2 separate regions of the Homo sapiens genome follow, and region 1 is linked to region 2. The links come from fine-mapping of genetic effects on gene expression. Tissue or cell type: whole blood. Region 2 holds a variant in brackets; the other region holds the start of a gene. All regions are shown on one strand. Distances are from middle to middle.

What was found. PIP is the estimated chance that this variant, and not a neighbour inherited with it, causes the effect.
Region 1: ZKSCAN1 starts here. The variant in region 2 is fine-mapped to the expression of ZKSCAN1 in whole blood (INTERVAL, PIP 0.98).

What each region holds. Positions count from the first base shown.
Region 1 is chr7:100,011,280-100,019,384 of GRCh38, reverse strand. It overlaps ZKSCAN1 (zinc finger with KRAB and SCAN domains 1), which reads right to left and starts at 3,789. Exons shown (of 6, transcript NM_003439.4): 1 at 3,659-3,789. LOC105375423 (a long non-coding RNA gene) reads right to left here. Exons shown (of 3, transcript NR_159960.1): 3 at 7,751-8,009. RefSeq lists a silencer at 3,534-3,703.
Region 2 is chr7:100,034,276-100,042,380 of GRCh38, reverse strand. It overlaps ZKSCAN1 (zinc finger with KRAB and SCAN domains 1), which reads right to left. Exons shown (of 6, transcript NM_003439.4): 6 at 692-8,105. Among named protein-coding and RNA genes, the nearest start is that of ZSCAN21, 11 kb to the left of the region's middle. RefSeq lists enhancers at 4,050-4,549, 4,550-5,051. The variant TTTTTC/C (reference allele first, on the strand shown) is at 3,061.

The sequences.
Region 1 (8,105 bases), 23 kb after region 2:
AAAATACAAAAATTAGCTGGATGTGTGGCACATACCTGTAATCTCAGCTACTCGGGAGGCTGAGGCAGGAGAATCACTTGAACCTGGGAGGTGGAGGGTGCAGTGAGCTGAGAACGCGCCACTGCACTCCAGCCTGGGTGACAGAGAGAGACTCCTTCTCAAAGAGAAAAAAAAATCACTCAGGAACGGGCCTTATCTACCACCCAGTTTTCACTGGAGGGTCACTATGTGACTGAAGCCCTTCCTGGGAAAGGGAGGAGACACAGCAGAAGATTCAAGTGGGGACTGTCTACAACATAACCAGGTGGGATCTTCAAACATGGTAACTGAGCAGAACTAGTGTGATAGCGAGCCCAGCCACCAGAAATCCCTACTTTTGTGAAAGTTTTATCCTGCCTTAGCTATTGAGCAGGACACTTCTTGGGTCAGTGCGAAGATGCGACTCTAAGGAGGAAATGAGTCCAGGGGGAAATAGACACAGACATGGGCACATTCCCTCTGCCCACAACTGGGACAGATCCTCCTCCTCACCTTCAGTATCTCTCTGCTCCTACTCTGGGGTGCAGGGAAAAGCCATCACAGCAGTGGAAAGGCTGGGTTTTATTTGAGGTTTCCCAGATGATCTGAGCACATACTCTTCTGTCTCTAAAGGCCCTAATACTCTTCACCAAACATTTGCTAGGTAATTTCTCATGATGCGCCGGGCGCAGTGGCTCATGCCTGTAATCCTAGCACTTTGGGAGGCTGAGGTGGGCGGATCACGAGGTGAGGAGATCGAGACCATCCTGGTAACACGATGAAACCCCGTCTCTACTAAAAATATAAAAAATTAGCTGGGTGTGGTGGCGGGCGCCTGTAGTCCCAGCTACTTGGGAGGCTGAGGCAGGAGAATGGCGTGAACCCGGGAGGCTGCGATTGCGCCACTGCACTCCAGCCTGGGTGACAGAGCGAGACTCTGTCTCAAAAAAAAAAAAAAAATTTCTCATGATGTTTCTTTCTCTGTAATTTTTCTTGCCTTCTTCCTCAACTAGATTATTAAGAGCAGTCCTCTTTGTACTCCTTAGACCACTTAGCATGATTCCTTGCAAGCCTCAGTTTCAAAAATACACTTGACTGAATTGACAACGTTACTATTTTTTAAAAGCCCGATCATTCTACATTCAATGTTGCACTCAAATTTGTTCCATGGACTAGTTGGATGAGTTTCAGGTTAGCATTAAAGCTGCTCCACCCCTTACTAGTTGACGGCCTTAGGCAAGTCAACAAGTTAACCTCTCTATGCGTCAGTTTCCTCATCTGTATAATGGGAATAAAAATCAGCATTTGTCCCATAGAGTTGCCGTGAGGATTAAATGAGGTAATAGATATAAAGCACTTAAAATAGTGCCTGGCATTTAGTAGGCACTACAGAAATGTCTTAATTTTTTTCAATAAGCTTAAAAGATGTAACTGTACATTCCAATTTTCAGCCTGCTTAGAAGATTAAGCAATGGGACAACTCCTGTAATAGTGAAAGCTGCACAGGCAATAACTGAATTCTAGTCTCCCACAAGTAAGTGGCACATCCCTGAGAGAGGTATTTAACTTCTCTGGCATTTTGTATCTTTATCAGTCAAATGGGGGTAGGGTGGGGGTTCCAGATAGTAGGAAACTACCTCTGGGTGAATATGGGCTGAAAAACATACTGACATACCATCCACTTTAAATAAAATTACCTCCAGCAGCTAAGGATACCTCAGTTCTCACCTAGGATAAACAGAAATGATTTTCTTAAACAACGGCTTGAAGTTACAAGCTCAAAGGCTGTGTTCCAAACAGCCCAGTATTTTTCCAGGGCATAGTCTTGAAAATGTAAACAAAGGCTGGGCACACAGTGGCTCACGCCCGTAATCCCAGCACTTTGGGAGGCTGAGGTTGGCGGACTGCCTGAGATCAGGCGTTCGAGACCAGCCTGGCCAACATGGCGAAACTCTGTCTCTACTAAAAATACAAAAATCAGCCAAGCCTTGGGACACATGCCTGTAGTCCCAGCTATTCGGGAGGCGGAGGCAGGAGGATCGCTTGAACTCGGGAGGCAGAGGTTGCAGTAAGCCGAGATCGCACCACTGCACTCCAGCCTGGGCGACAGAGCAAGACTCTGTCTCAAAAAAAAAAAAATTTTTTTTTAAATAAATTGCCCTTTGCCCTTTACACTCATTTTTTTAAAGAGCAATCAAATGTTTTAATATGAAAAAGCTACCTTAAAAGACAGCTAGCTATTCAAAGAATATTGATACTCCCACAGAATGAAAATGTTAGATTTAATATGCTATTCATCTGTATTTTAAATGCTTTTAAATCGAGAATGAGCAAAAGACTAAGTAGCTAGCTTCCTCGTTTGTATTTTAAGAGTGGTGAAAACTGCCTGAAATAATAAACAAGAATCTTATATGTTAATTCAGAGAAGATACAAACCTGGATACACATTCTGGGGCAAATCACCATGGTTTCCTATGTAAAACAGCGATTTCTCCACATTTGTTCAGCATATATACTAACAGTGCTTTGCTGATGTGGTTACAATGAATTCTCCACAATTCAATTCAACAAGTATTTATTGACCGCCTCCAATCCGCCTAGCACTGGCCCGTACAATAAATGCTTTCTTTGGTCCCAGGCCATGGAACAGCCACTCTCTATAATGAAAGTATCTTACTGTGTACAGGGGGCACTGCAGGAAAGGGAGGGGAGGGATGGAGGAGTGTCAAGCTAAACTGTAGTTAATTCTTCAATTACATTGACCAAATCATTTCGAAGTCGGAAGGGCCTTTTGAGAAAATCCAGTTAGTTTTTATTGATGACGAAATTAAGACTTGGTGAGTGTCTCGTCTTATCCAAGGTCACTCAGCTAATCAGTCTCCTAGTGACACAGTGCAATTTCCACAAATTCCCTTCACTTCTCACCCCACTCCATGTCAAACAGAGCAACTATCCAGAATTGAAAAATCCACCTAACGTCCCGGACAGCTCTTTTCCAAAGCCTTCAAAGCATTCCATCAAGCTGAAAGAGTGGGGTGTATATAATCTCTACTAGATCCCAATCACCTATTTATCCACTATGACTAGGCTTCAAATACTCTTTAATCACCGCTCAGTGATGAGGGTGGGAGAAGGAAAGGCAGGTCTGGAAACGTATGCGGCACCTCAAAATGTGTCCATCTCTCATCCTTCCGCTCATTTCACCTCGAGGTCCCGAAGGAACCGGGGGGGGAAAAAGACACCTCACCGGAATCAAAGCAAATGGCGACTAAGGGAGAGCAGAAAAATCAAGACCGGGGTCGGTTCGCTCGCGACCCCGTTTGCAGAAACGTCAAAGGGCGATGACGACACTGCGGGAGAGGGGCCCACAGACGGCTTCTCCCCGGGTCTCCGGGCACCCTCAGCCACTGAAACCCTCGCCCCCTCCCCGCCTGATCCTGGGGGTGGGGCGGGGACGTCTCCCAGGAAGAACGGCGCTTTCTACGGCCGGGCCCGGCCAGGAGGCAGGGGCATGGACTCTCTTCGCACAACAGCGGGGCCGCCTGGAGGGGGTCCCAGGGCCGCAGCTGCGGAGCCCACCCTCGCGCACACACCCTTGCGGCCCCGCCCTCCCACCCCAGAGGCCGGCCCCAAGTCTCACCGTGAGCCCCGGGAGCGGCCTGGGGGCGCTGGGCGAGAAAGGGGAGCTGACTCTGGGGCTCAGGCCGGCCGAAGGGCACCGCACACGGACTTAGGCCCTCCCGACGCCTCGACACAGACACAATGAGTCACAAAGGCCGGAAGCGTGTCACCACCTCGTCTTCCGGGACCGCGCCGCGCTTCCGGGTCCTCTCTAGGAGCGCGGGAGGACTTTGCATCTCGGTTTCCGAATCGCTGGACCAGGCGCCTGCCCTTGAGTTTTCAAGCCTCCAGCTTGGAGGATCAGGTCCCAGTCCGCCCCTAGTTAATGCAGGGACTAACGGGAGCAGGTGGTGGGGGGTTTCAGGCTTTCCCCTACTCAAACTCAAACAGACTCTCCAGCTCAGACACCAGTCCATGTGAAAGTTCGATTTCACCTGTCTTTTTCATCTCAGGCAGTCCTTGTAGTAATTATAGTTATTATCAAGCAATATAGTACTTGGTAATTGTATGTCTGTGGCAAAGGAACTGAAACAAGGATGTAGACTGAGGAAGATCAAAGTGAAGCCAAGGGTGGCTGGTTTCCCAAAGCTGCCACGGTAGCTTCTCTCAGGGCCCTGGAGCTATATGGAGTGGTATTTTCAAATACTTGGCCCGTGGACAAGGGATGTCTTTCCACAAGCAAGCATAGTTATAAGGTTCTGTGCTTTGCTCATGTGGCATATGCTATTATAGCCGTTTAAAAGGAGTTTTCAGAGTAACAACAGACACTTTTACCTTCAAAGTGCTTTCACAACCTACCACAGTTACAGCCTTCATCTTTGCCTTGCAGGGTAAGGCACGCATAAGAGGGGGCCACGTTGTGCAAGGGTGGGGGGGACTACAGGCTTTAATGGTTGTGACTTTCCACTATGTTCCGAGACAAGTTCATGGGAGAAACTCAGTAGCTTGGTTGCATGACTCTTACTGCTTGGAGAGATTTACTTTTTTTTTTTAGATGGAGTCTCGCTCTGTCACCCAGCCTGCAGTGCAGTGGCACCATCTTGGCTCACTGCAACCTCCACCTCCCAGGTTCAAGCGATTCTCCTGCCTTAGCCTCCTGAGTACCTGGGACTACAGGCGCACACCACCATGCCTGGTTAATTTTTGTATTTTTGGTAGAGAACAGGGTTTCACCATATTGGCCAGGATGGTCTCGATCTACTGACCTTGTGATCCACCCGCCTCAGCCTCCCAAAGTGCTGGAATTACAGGCGTGAGCCACCGTGCCCGGCCAGATTTACTTTTTAAAAAATGTTTGAAAACTAAAAAGCAATGACAGGGCCAGACACGATGACTCAAGCCTGTAATCTTAGCACTTCGGGAGGCTGGGACGGGAGGATTCTTGAGCCCAAGAGTTGGAGACCAGCCTAAGCAACGTAATGAGACCCTCTCTCTACAAAAAATACTAAAATTAGCTGGGTGCAGGGTAGTGTGTGCCAGTGGTCCCAGCTGCTTGGGAGGCTGAGGTAGAAGGATAGATTGAGCCCAGGAGGTTGAGGCTGCAGTGAGCTATGATTGTGCCATTGCACCCCAGTCTGGGCCACAGAGCAAGATCCCATCTCAAAAAAGAAAAAAAGGGCCGGGCACGGTGGCTCATGCCTGTAATCCCAGCAGTTTGGGAGGCCAAGGTGGGTGGATCACGAAGTCAAGAGATTGAGATCATCCTGGCCCATATGGTGAAACCCCGTCTCTACTAAAAATACAAAAATTAGCTGGGCGTGGTGGCACACGCCTATAGTCCCAGCTACTTGGGAGGCTGAGGCAGGAGAATCGCTTGAACTCCAGAGGCGGAGGCTGCAGTGAGCCGAGATCGTGCCACTGCTCTCCAGCCTGGGGACAGAGCTAGACTCTGTATCCAAAAAAGAAGCAACAACAGTATCATTAAAGGAAATTTGCAAAATGGAGAAAAATAATTACCGGTAATCTCTCCACCCTAACACAATCCCCATGGCTTTAGTTTACCTTTTTCCTGTTTTCATATACAAATAAATATTTATTGATATTATTTTAAACACTGTTCAAAACCATAGTTGCAGTTGTATTGAAGAGGAGGCTGGTATCCTGGAAGTATCTGCTACATTCATATCATGTGAACACTGTTTTTTAAGGAAGAGAAAATATATTTACTATTCAGTAAGTGGAAATAGATCATCATCAAGGTCTTCATACTCATCGTCTTCACACTGAGTAAGCTGAGGAGGAAGAGGAAGGGTTGCTCTTGCTGTCTCAGGGGTGGCAGAGGCAGGAAGTGATCCACCAGCCTCGGCCTCCCAAAGTGCTAGGATTACAGGTGTGAGTCACTGCACCTGGCCTCTTTTCTTTCTTTTTTTTTGAGAGAGTTTCCCTCAGTTGCCATGTTGGAGTGCAATGGCGTGATCTCAGCTCACTGCAACCTCCGCCTCCTGGGCTCAAGTGATTCTCATGCCTCAGCCTCCCAAGTAGCTAGGATTACAGGTGTGCACTCACCATGCCTGGCTAATTTGTGTATTTTTAGTAGAGATGGGGTTTTACCATGTTGGCCATGCTGGTCTCGAACTCCTGGCCTCAAGTGATCCACCCACCTCAGCCTCTCAAAGTGCTGGGATTACAAGTGTGAGCCACCGCGCCTGGCCTCGACATCTTTGATTACTTCCTAAGGATGGATTCCAAGAAATGAGATTACTGGTCCCACAGATAGTCAGAGGGAATATAGGCAATAACGTTTGTAACCCCAGGGTTCTAGACCTGTCAGCAAACAAGCTCAGCTGACAAGATCAGGTGGTATCCACCCAAGAGTTTTGAAAGGACTCTAAGATGAAAGTGTTGAAAGAATCATGAAACTAATGATTTATGATTACAAAGAGACATTGTGCTTAAAAATTGGCTGGCTGCCCTGAACAAATAAAAGTTCCTGAAGGGCACCCTAGAAACTGTGGTTGCCTAAGTTTGACTTCTGTGTTGTGAAAGCTGGTGGAGTCAATGCTGAAGGGGAGCCCGGGTTTGCGGCTGTGACTGGGTGGCTGCAGCTACTCCTGGGAGGGAGGGTCTCCTGTCCCTCCAACTTGGAAGGAGTGGGGGCTTCCATGTGTTCCCAGCTCCCTCCAGCTCTGTGGAGTGCTGCGATCCCAGCTATGCCTCACTCACTGCAGCCAGCATCATGGCAGTGGCCACTCCAGATGGGGTGCTGCTGCCAAGGCGGGCAGATCACCTGAGGTCAGGAGCTCGGGACCAGCCTGACCAACACGGAGAAACCCCGCCTCTACTAAAAATACAAAATTAGCTGGGCATGGTGGTGCATGCCTGTAATCCCAGCTACTCAGTAGGCTGAGGTAGGAGAATCGCTTGAACCCAGGAGGCAGAGGTTGCGGTGAGCCGAGATTGAACCATTGCACTCCAGCCTGGGCAATAAGAGCGAAACTCTGTCTTAAAAAAAACAAAACAAAACAAAAAAAACAAACCCAAGTCTTATATCTGATTCCAAAGGTCCCATTTTACTGAGTCTTCTTCTTTCTTCTTGACGGAGTTTTTGCTTTTGTCACCGAGGCTGGGATCACTGCAACCTCCGCCTCCCAGGTTCAAGCGATTCTCCTGCCTCAGCCTCCCACGTAGCTGGGATTAAAGGCGTGTGCCACCTGCCTGACTAGTTTTTGTATTTGTAGTAGAGATGGGATTTTGCCATGTTGGCCAGGCTGGTGTCGAACTCCTGACCTCCAGCGATCCGCCCACCTCGGCCTCCCAAAGTGTTGGGATTATAGGCGTGAGCCACCGTGCCCAGCCTGAGTTTTCTTTACTGTCGGCTAGGGCTGTGGCTGGGGAACCTGCTGTGGGAAGGGTACTTTCATCTATGCTTTTCCTCCTCCCCTTCCCTCTCCCTGGGGTGGCAGGAGTGAGTGATCTGACTGTTGGAGACACCTTCCCTCTCTATTTTCCTATTGGAAGCTGTGGCTTCTCTGTTGTGTTGAGCAAAGTGGACGGATAGGGAGAGGGTCAAAAATCTCTTACTTAACTGACTATTCTCTCCTGTTGGTTGTTGCTCTTCCCTCGGTAACACAGTGTTCCAGCTACTTAAGCAGCAAAACAAATTATTCAACAATTTCGTGGGTGAAAGCAATGACAACATTGTTTATTTTGCTCCTAAATCTTCCATTTGGTGGAGGGATCCACATGGATGGCTCATCTATGCTCCACCTGGCTCCTCTGGGGGGCCTCAAAGGTTGGACCATCTGAAGGCTCGCCAGCTCCTAAGATTGGTGATTGGTCTGGCTGTCAGCGGAGATCTTAGCTGGGGCAGTGGATCTGAACATGTGCAGGTGGTCTCTTCATGTGCTCTGGGCTTCCTCACAGGATGGTGGCTGGGGTCCAAGGACAAGTATCCAGAGAGAGAGAGAGGAGGAAGGAAGGAAGGAAGGAAGGAAAGGGAAGGGAAGGGAAGGAAGGAAGGAAGGAAG
Region 2 (8,105 bases):
TGGATGCCTCCTGGACACAACCTCACATCCTCCCAGTTCACCTTTTTTTTTTTTTTTTTTTTGAGACAAAGTCTCACTCTGTTGCCCAAGCTGGAGTGCAGTGGTGCGATCTCGGCTCACTGCAACCTCCCCCTCCTGGGTTCAAGTGATTCTCCTGGCTCAGCCTCCCGAGTAGCTGGGACTACAGGCGCCCGCCACCACGCCTGGTTAATTTTTGTATTTTTAGTAGAGAGGGGGTTTCACCATGTTGGCCAGGCTGGTTTCGAACTCCTGGCCTCAGGTGATCTGCCTGCCTCGGCCTCCCAAACTGCAGGGATTACAGGCATAAGCCACCATGGCTGGCCATGTCTATCAGTCTTAAAGAGTCTGTTGTTATCAGTAATTCCATATGGGGAGAGGGTATAATGAGGCATGTTTGGCTCCCCCTTCCCATCATGGCCTGAACTAGTTTTTCAGGTTAACTTTGGAATGCCCTTGGCTGAGAGGAGAGGTCCATTCAGGTGACTGGGTGGCCTTTGAAATTTAATTTTGGTTTGCAAAGTAAACAGATAGTTTTGCATGAGAATTTTGTTTGTGGGTTGCAGCTCCAGTCTTTTAACTTTGGAATACTTTTTTTTCTTCACCCCCAATGTGTATTTATGCAACCAAGGATGAGAAAAACAAAGAACAAAAAACAAACCAGCACAAGCACTGCCACCTAGAGATGATAATTTATTGTTTTACCATGACTCAGAAGAGAAACAACATAAAGAGAATATTTCAAATCCCCACAATTTCCTTCCTCAACCTCACTACTCTTAACATTTCTTTATCAGACGCCACTGGCTTCCTAAAATGGACCACTGACTATGTATGTGTACACATTTCATTATGCTGCCTTTTCTCTTATGATTAAAACTTTAGCCCTCATTCGAGGTTTCCAATGGTTACTTTTAGTGGAGGAGTTCCCTAGCTTTTAAAAAACCACTTTTCCTCTAAGATTCCATTATTTATTGAAAGAAGTCTTTCTAGAAATGTTAAGGAGGATTTTAAATGAACACATTCAATTAAAAAAAAAATCACGTATTGAACATCTACCAAGCATCTGGACTCTTCGGAACCTAGTAAAATGAAAAAATCCAGTTTTAACAACAGTAACTTCATTCTGCGGGTATACAGAGACAAGCACGTTTCTTCTTTTGGTCTAATTTATTCTAAACGAAGAAGCTGGGAACTGACAAAACAGGACAGGTTGTTTTTAATCCAGTCTACAAATAAACAAGACAATGCCTGAGTTAGCCCTCTATATAGATTTAGGCTTATGCTGACCTCGTTGTAAAATCTGTATTTAACTAAAAGTTAATAAAAATACATATGTTCATTTTAAAATAATTACTGATTTTGCTTGGCTATCCCACCCCTTACCCCCAAACTCATATATTTTTAGGACAAGATTTTCCTGCATAACCACAACCTGTCTCCTCCCACCCCACCCCCATCATAGATGTTTTCAAATAAGAACCCCTGCGATCAGCAGAAGCATCTCTAATCTAACATGCTTTGTCCTTGCTAGGGCAGGCTAAAAGCTTTAAAAAGCAACCGGATGCTCTTCTCTGGTTGAGGTGAGGGGAAGGCGCTCGGGTACCAACCCCAGCACACCCCAACAGCCTTTCCTCGGCCCCTCCTCAGGCCTCCTAATTACTCTTTCTCAGCCTGGAGTGTGGGGCCGTTACCGTCCTCTTCCCCCTTCTCCTTCCATACTGCACTTAACCTTGCTGGAAGACTTAATGATGGAGATTTAGGGCAACTGTGGCTGCTTGGACCCTTCCCTGGACCAAAGGAACTTAAAACCCAAACCTGACACTGGAATGAAATCCAAGTTTTTAAATATCACCTTTCAATCACTCACAGATCTCACTCTATCTTAAAATACTCAGCCTCACTCCTTAATGAGTGCTTGCTGAAGGGAGAAAATTCCATTTTAAAAACGTATTCACTTTACTGATTACTGTGCAATTTGAATTAAGTCACGATTCTTTAGTAAATGGAGGTGAGAATCTCAGATTCAAATTGTCAGAGACCATGATTTAGAAGTCTACCAAACACCCAGTTTCCTTCCACTGTTTTAGGGTAACAGGAAAACATGAGATTGGGGTGGTGTCCGCTATTAAATGGAACCACACATCATGAAATTCAATTCTCATGTTAAGACATTCTGTATTGTGGGATGTCAAAAGTATTTCCCAAACTTTCGTTTGACCTGCAGAGTTGGAGATGGCTTACCTCCCTATAACTTCAAGTTTGTTTCACAAAGCTTTGAAAAGTAAAACAGATAATTTCATTTTCAGATAATAAAAAATCTGAATAGCAAAATAATTGCTTTTAAATGTAGTGTGTCCACTCTAAAAAAAAAAACCCTAAATCTATGTTAGAAAAACTTTTCAAATAATGCCTTTTATTAAATTCTCCAGTAGTAGTTGAAATAAAAATCTACCCTAATTTCTATGAAATGATCTATTTATATCACTGACTTTTCTTTTTCTCTGATTCTATATTTCATTTAACAATCTGCAGACTTTCACCCCATTTCCCAGATGGGAAAACCCTAGCCCCCTCGTATCTCTGAGAAGTTGCTCAGAGTAGGACACAGAGAAATATGGCCCCCACCCTGGGAAGTACTGCTGTCACTGTTTAAGTGTATTTCAGTTCTGTTACTCCAATTCATACACACAGTCTTCCATGAGGATGGTAGGATGAACCTGGTTAGCTGGCTTTGGATAAGCAGATCAGCATGACTACCTGGAATAAAAGTGACTGACTCTAGGATAAAAATTAAAAAAAGATTCTTTCACAGCAACGAGTCTTTGCAAAACCTCTCTCCTAATAATCACAAACCAGGGGAAGAAAAGTGGGAGCAGGGAACACAGGAACACAGCCAAAGGGAATATTGCAAAATGCTTCCCGAGCTTCATCAGACAGACTTCTTGCAATGCCACGACTGGATGCATCTGCACACAATTCCGGGAAATGCCCACCTTGCTGTTCTCCTATCCCCAATTTTCTTTCTTTCTTTCTTTTTTT[TTTTTC/C]TTTTTTTGAGACAGAGTCTCTGTTACCCAGGCTGGAGTGCAGTGGTGCAATCTCGGCTCACTGCAACCTCTGCCTCCCAGATTTAGGTGATTCTCCTGCCTCAGCCTCCTGAGTAGCTGGGACTACAGGCGCCCACCACCACGCCCGGCTAATTTTTGTATTTTTAGTAGAGACAGGCTTTCACCACGTTGGCCAGGCTGGTCTCAAACTCCTGACCTCAAGTGATCCGCCCACCTCTGCCTCCCAAAGTGCTGAGATTACAGGAGTGAGCCACCGTGCCTGGCCAGTCCTATCCTCCCCCCAACCTTTTTTTTTTTTTTGACATGGAGTCTCACGCCATCACCCAGGCTGGAGTGCAGTGGCGCCATCTTGGCTCACTGCAACCTCCGCCTCCCATGTTCAAGTGATCCTCCTGCCTCAGCCTCCTGAGTAGCTGGGACTACAGGCGCCCGCCACCACGCCCAGCTATTTTTTTGTATTTTTAGTAGAGACGGGGTTTCGCCATGTTAGCCAGGATGGTCTCGATCTCCTGACCTTGTGATCCACCCGCCTTGGTCTCCCAAAGTGCTGGGATTACAGGCCTGAGCCACTGTGCCCAGCCTTATCCTCAATTTTCTAAGCATAAGGATTTAAGAGTTAGTGGGAAAGCATGACTACGGTTTAAAAGAACCTGGTCAGCTGAAGCAGTCCCACTTGGCCATTCCAGTACACTTCCTACTCTCGCTTCATGGAGAAGACCGTCTACTGACAAGAGAATCCATCCCCTTTGCACACAGTGGTCACCTGACAGCTCAGAGGTCAACTTCTTGGTTTTGAGGAAAAATTCAAAAGGCTGCACGTTTAAAGGAGTTGTTCCATTTCAGTGCCCCATTAGCCTGTCTTTCCTCAGAAATTTACCAATCTCTTGATGTGATAAGCACCAAACTATGAAGCTTTTCCCTTCCTCTCCCCGCTGCTCCGTTCTGTGAACCGACTTTTTGTCTACAATCACACTGATTTCTTCACTGTTTGCTCTGAAACTTCACTTTTTCTGAGTGATGTGTTCTGTCAAATAGGCTAAAATAAAATACAGTATCTGCTTACAGGTAATATACGGAACAATAACAAGGGACTGAAGGTACAAAACACACACGGACATTATGGTCATATAAAATATATAGAAGTACCTAACGTTAACAATTTTTGTAAGAAGTTGCACATTTTGCTATTTTTTTAAAGCATTTCCCCACATTTTTTTTCATCTGTAGATCCTCTGCAGTTAAGATTGAGCACCCCCCCGCAACTTTTTTTTTTGATACAGAGCCTCGCTCTGTCACTCAAGGCTGGAGTGCCAGTGGCATGATCTTAGCTCACTGCAACCTCCGCCTCGCAGGTTCAAGCCATTCTCCTGCCTCAGCCTCCCGAGTAGCTGGGACTACAGGCGTGCGCCACTGTGCCCAGCTAATTTTTTTTTGTATTTTTAGTAGAGACAAGGTTTCACCATGTTGGCCAGGCTGGTCTCGAACTACTGACCTCGTGATCCGCCTGCCTCGGCCTCCCAAAGTGCTGCGATTACAGGCGTGAGCCACGGCGCCCGGCCAAGATTGAGCTCCCTCTTGCAATGTTTCTCAAATTCATCACGATTGGAACATACCGACGGAATTCATTTTCTGTCTGAAGCAATGAGTGCTATACATGAAAGTTTTCCTCACATATAATATTCATCAAGTTTATTTACAGTATAAGCTTTCCGATGCTAAGGGCTGAGATGTGATTAAAGGCTTTGCCGTATTCATCACATTCAGGAGGCTCCTTTCTGGAATAAATTCTCTGATGTCTATGTGAACTGTCCCACGTATCACACGTCAACCTCTCTATACATATTTAGCAGTTTCACTTTTATGCCTTTAATATTAAGTGCTTTACATATCAAGATGTCTCATAGATCGATAATCTCAGGTTTTAGCCTTGCCTGCCAGGCTGGAGTAGAAACAAATACCCCACAACCTGAGGATTTTACTTCTCTTCCTGGCAAGGGTAGGGTATATATTGAAAAACTCTTCAAAAATTTCCATTAGGACAACTAGCATGCTAATGGTTAACTGTAGAATGTTTCAACTGTTAACAGACTTCAGCGGGCCAAGAACTTTTGAATGACTATCTTGAACGCCAATTAGATGTTGCAAGCGTTTTTGACCATGACCCAATTACACTTTGCACTGAGCATCTGATAAACGAATGCACTGCAAGTGGTTTTAATAAACAGTTGTAGCCTGTTTTCCTCAGAAAACACATCTTCAAATAGCTGCTTCAAGGACAGCATGTGGCTGAAGATCGAAGCAACCCTAGTGGCAGCTATCCAACAAAGTCAGGAAGATGTCTCCATGAAACGGAATTAAATGTGAGGGCACAGGTCACATTTAACCTTCATTTAAAAACAAAACTCAAAAGTGATGGCTGAGTTATATCAGCATATAGTTGTGGCTGAAAGAAAAAAAAAAACCAAAGGCCAATGTAAACATGACCAAAGTCCTTTCCCTCTTAAAAAATAAGTGCTTGGGTCGTTGCCTGGAGTTCCACACCTCACTTTTCAGTTTCTTTCTTTCTTTTTTTTTTTTTTGAGATGGAGTTTTGCTAGTCACCCAGGCTGGAGTGCAGTGTGCAATCTTGGCTCACTGCAACCTCTGCCTCCTGGGTTCAAGTGATTCTCCTGCCTCAGCCTCCCAAGTAGCTGGGATTACAGGTGCCCACCATCATGCCCGGCTAATTTTTATAATTTTAGTAGAGACGGGATTTTACCATGTTGGCCAGGCTGGTCTCAAAACTCCTGACCTCAGGTGATCCGCTCACCTCGGCCTCCCAAAGTGCTGGGATTACAGGCGTGAGCCACCGCACCTGGCCTCAGTTGCTTTCTAGAGGGCAAAAGTCCTTGCTCAAAAGCACAGGAGTTTTCTACAAAACCATTGCTGTGGCTTATTCTTTGAAGAAAATCCTTAAAACATTTTCTGCCTCCATTTTAGTTACTTAGATATACTCTTCTGGAGTAATGGGTTTTTCTTCCGTTGCATGGGTAGAAATATCCTAGTGACTGGTTGACTTGCAACACGTTTTCCCAAGTAATGCTGATGAAACTGCTTAGAAGCTATAGGGAAGTTGTAGTTGGTTTAAGTCATAAAGCCAAGGAGAGGCCAAAGAATGACCACTGTGCAGTTTTAGCTCCCACTTCGTTGGTTCCATATAAAACCATTTGGTCTCATGGACTTTAGCTGCTGATCAGTGAATGACTGATGAGTAATAGTTTTAGTATAAGTTTCTCAAGGGAAAGTCTCAAACTATATATGGGGTTCTCTTGTTATGGGGAGGTCACACTGATAGTCTTGAGGTTTGTTCTCAGTCTATGTTTCTGTTTCCGCAGGGCGGTCCTAGCCTTGGGTAGGACCCTTGTCCTACTTGAGTGGCGATGACTACTTACACAGCTCACAATCTCCTGTGTGTGAAACAGTCTCCTGCCATCAGCTTCTAGGTAGCCAGTTGCACCCTGCGCACAACGATGGGACCAATGAAAGTTTCATAACCTCACCTCAGTCTTTAGTGATAAGAAACAGAAAAGTCACTGTGCACTATGACGATGGCACAGCCAGCCACATCTCAGTACACTGCTGAGTTTCTCAGAGCAACAAAATACATTTAGTAATTGCCAGTGAACAATTAATGCTTTTGCAAAGTTACTGGAAAAGCGTGGGAAAAAACACTCCCTACCACGTTCCTTTTTCTGAAAAGCAACAAAAATCACATCTTCTGAACTCCAGTATCTAAGTACAAATGATTCAGAAAATCCCCAAATCATCATACTGTTCAGCAGCTAACTGCAAAGAATTCTAAGAGCTTTGCCACAGAAAGATGTCAAAAAAAAAAAATGACCTTCATCAGTGTTCATATTTTTCTTCAAGATGACGATGATAAAGTCATTTCTGACATTCCATGGTATTTACTCACTGTTTAGAAAGTCTATGCAGGCGGCTGACTAGTGCCTTTCGTTTATATTTGGAACAAAAACAGCATCAGACCCTAGAGGTTTAGCATGCCTTGTGGCTACGAAGGTCCTCTTTAGAAGCTGGGCCAGGCTACCATATTTCAGGGACTCACGATTCACAGGCTTTTATCACACACGTAGAAGTCCTGTAGAAGTCAGTCTGAATGAGTGCCTCTTAGGTGTTCAGTACTCACTATGTCCAGCACTGTGCTGGCAGGGATAGAAATATATCCCTTGACAACCGAATCTTTTTTGGGGGTTAGGGGGTGATTAAAAACTTCATACATGAAACAATGAAGGATTAAAAGACAGTATACAATCAAGTGCTAACTTGTGGAGAAATGCATTTAGGAGTGCGATAGTGCTTTAGGGATTTCAAGAAGGGAGAGATGTATTTGGAGTTGTTGTTGCCATTTCAGTAGAACTGATCTCAGGGATGAGGACAGAACCATCTACATTTGTTGCAGTCCTTTGGAACTGTAGACTGGTGCACATACCCTCTCTTTCGGGAAGAGATAGAAATCTTTGGTTTGATACTGATTAGCACAGTCCTAGATTTCTACAGCTTTGGTAGGCTACCAGTGATCATATATACAACTTATCGTATATATAACTACCTTGAGCAGCATGTCCCAATGTCGTTTTTGTTTTCACTGTCCCTCTTTTTTGAGAAATAAGCAGGATGTTGGCCAAAGTAGGGCTTGTTTGCAGCAAGTAGCATCCTAACCTCCGTATCACTTTCGTGGAGCCAATCTTGATCTTTCAACTATTATGTTGTGGTTGCCGAGAGTCCAAGAGTGCCTTAAAGGTATCCTCATTACTGAAAAGACTGACATTTCACTATGCGTGTGCTTTTCTCTTGTGTGGAAATCTCACGTGGATTATCCGTAAGATTAGCCTTTCCCTGCAGGGGCTGTGTGGAAGGATTATATGCCCAACTACTACATAAAGGCAGAACACTGCTGATGTGACTAGAAGGATCCTTAAGTGTGACTTTTGTTTTTTAATCTGTTGAGGCTGTATTTCT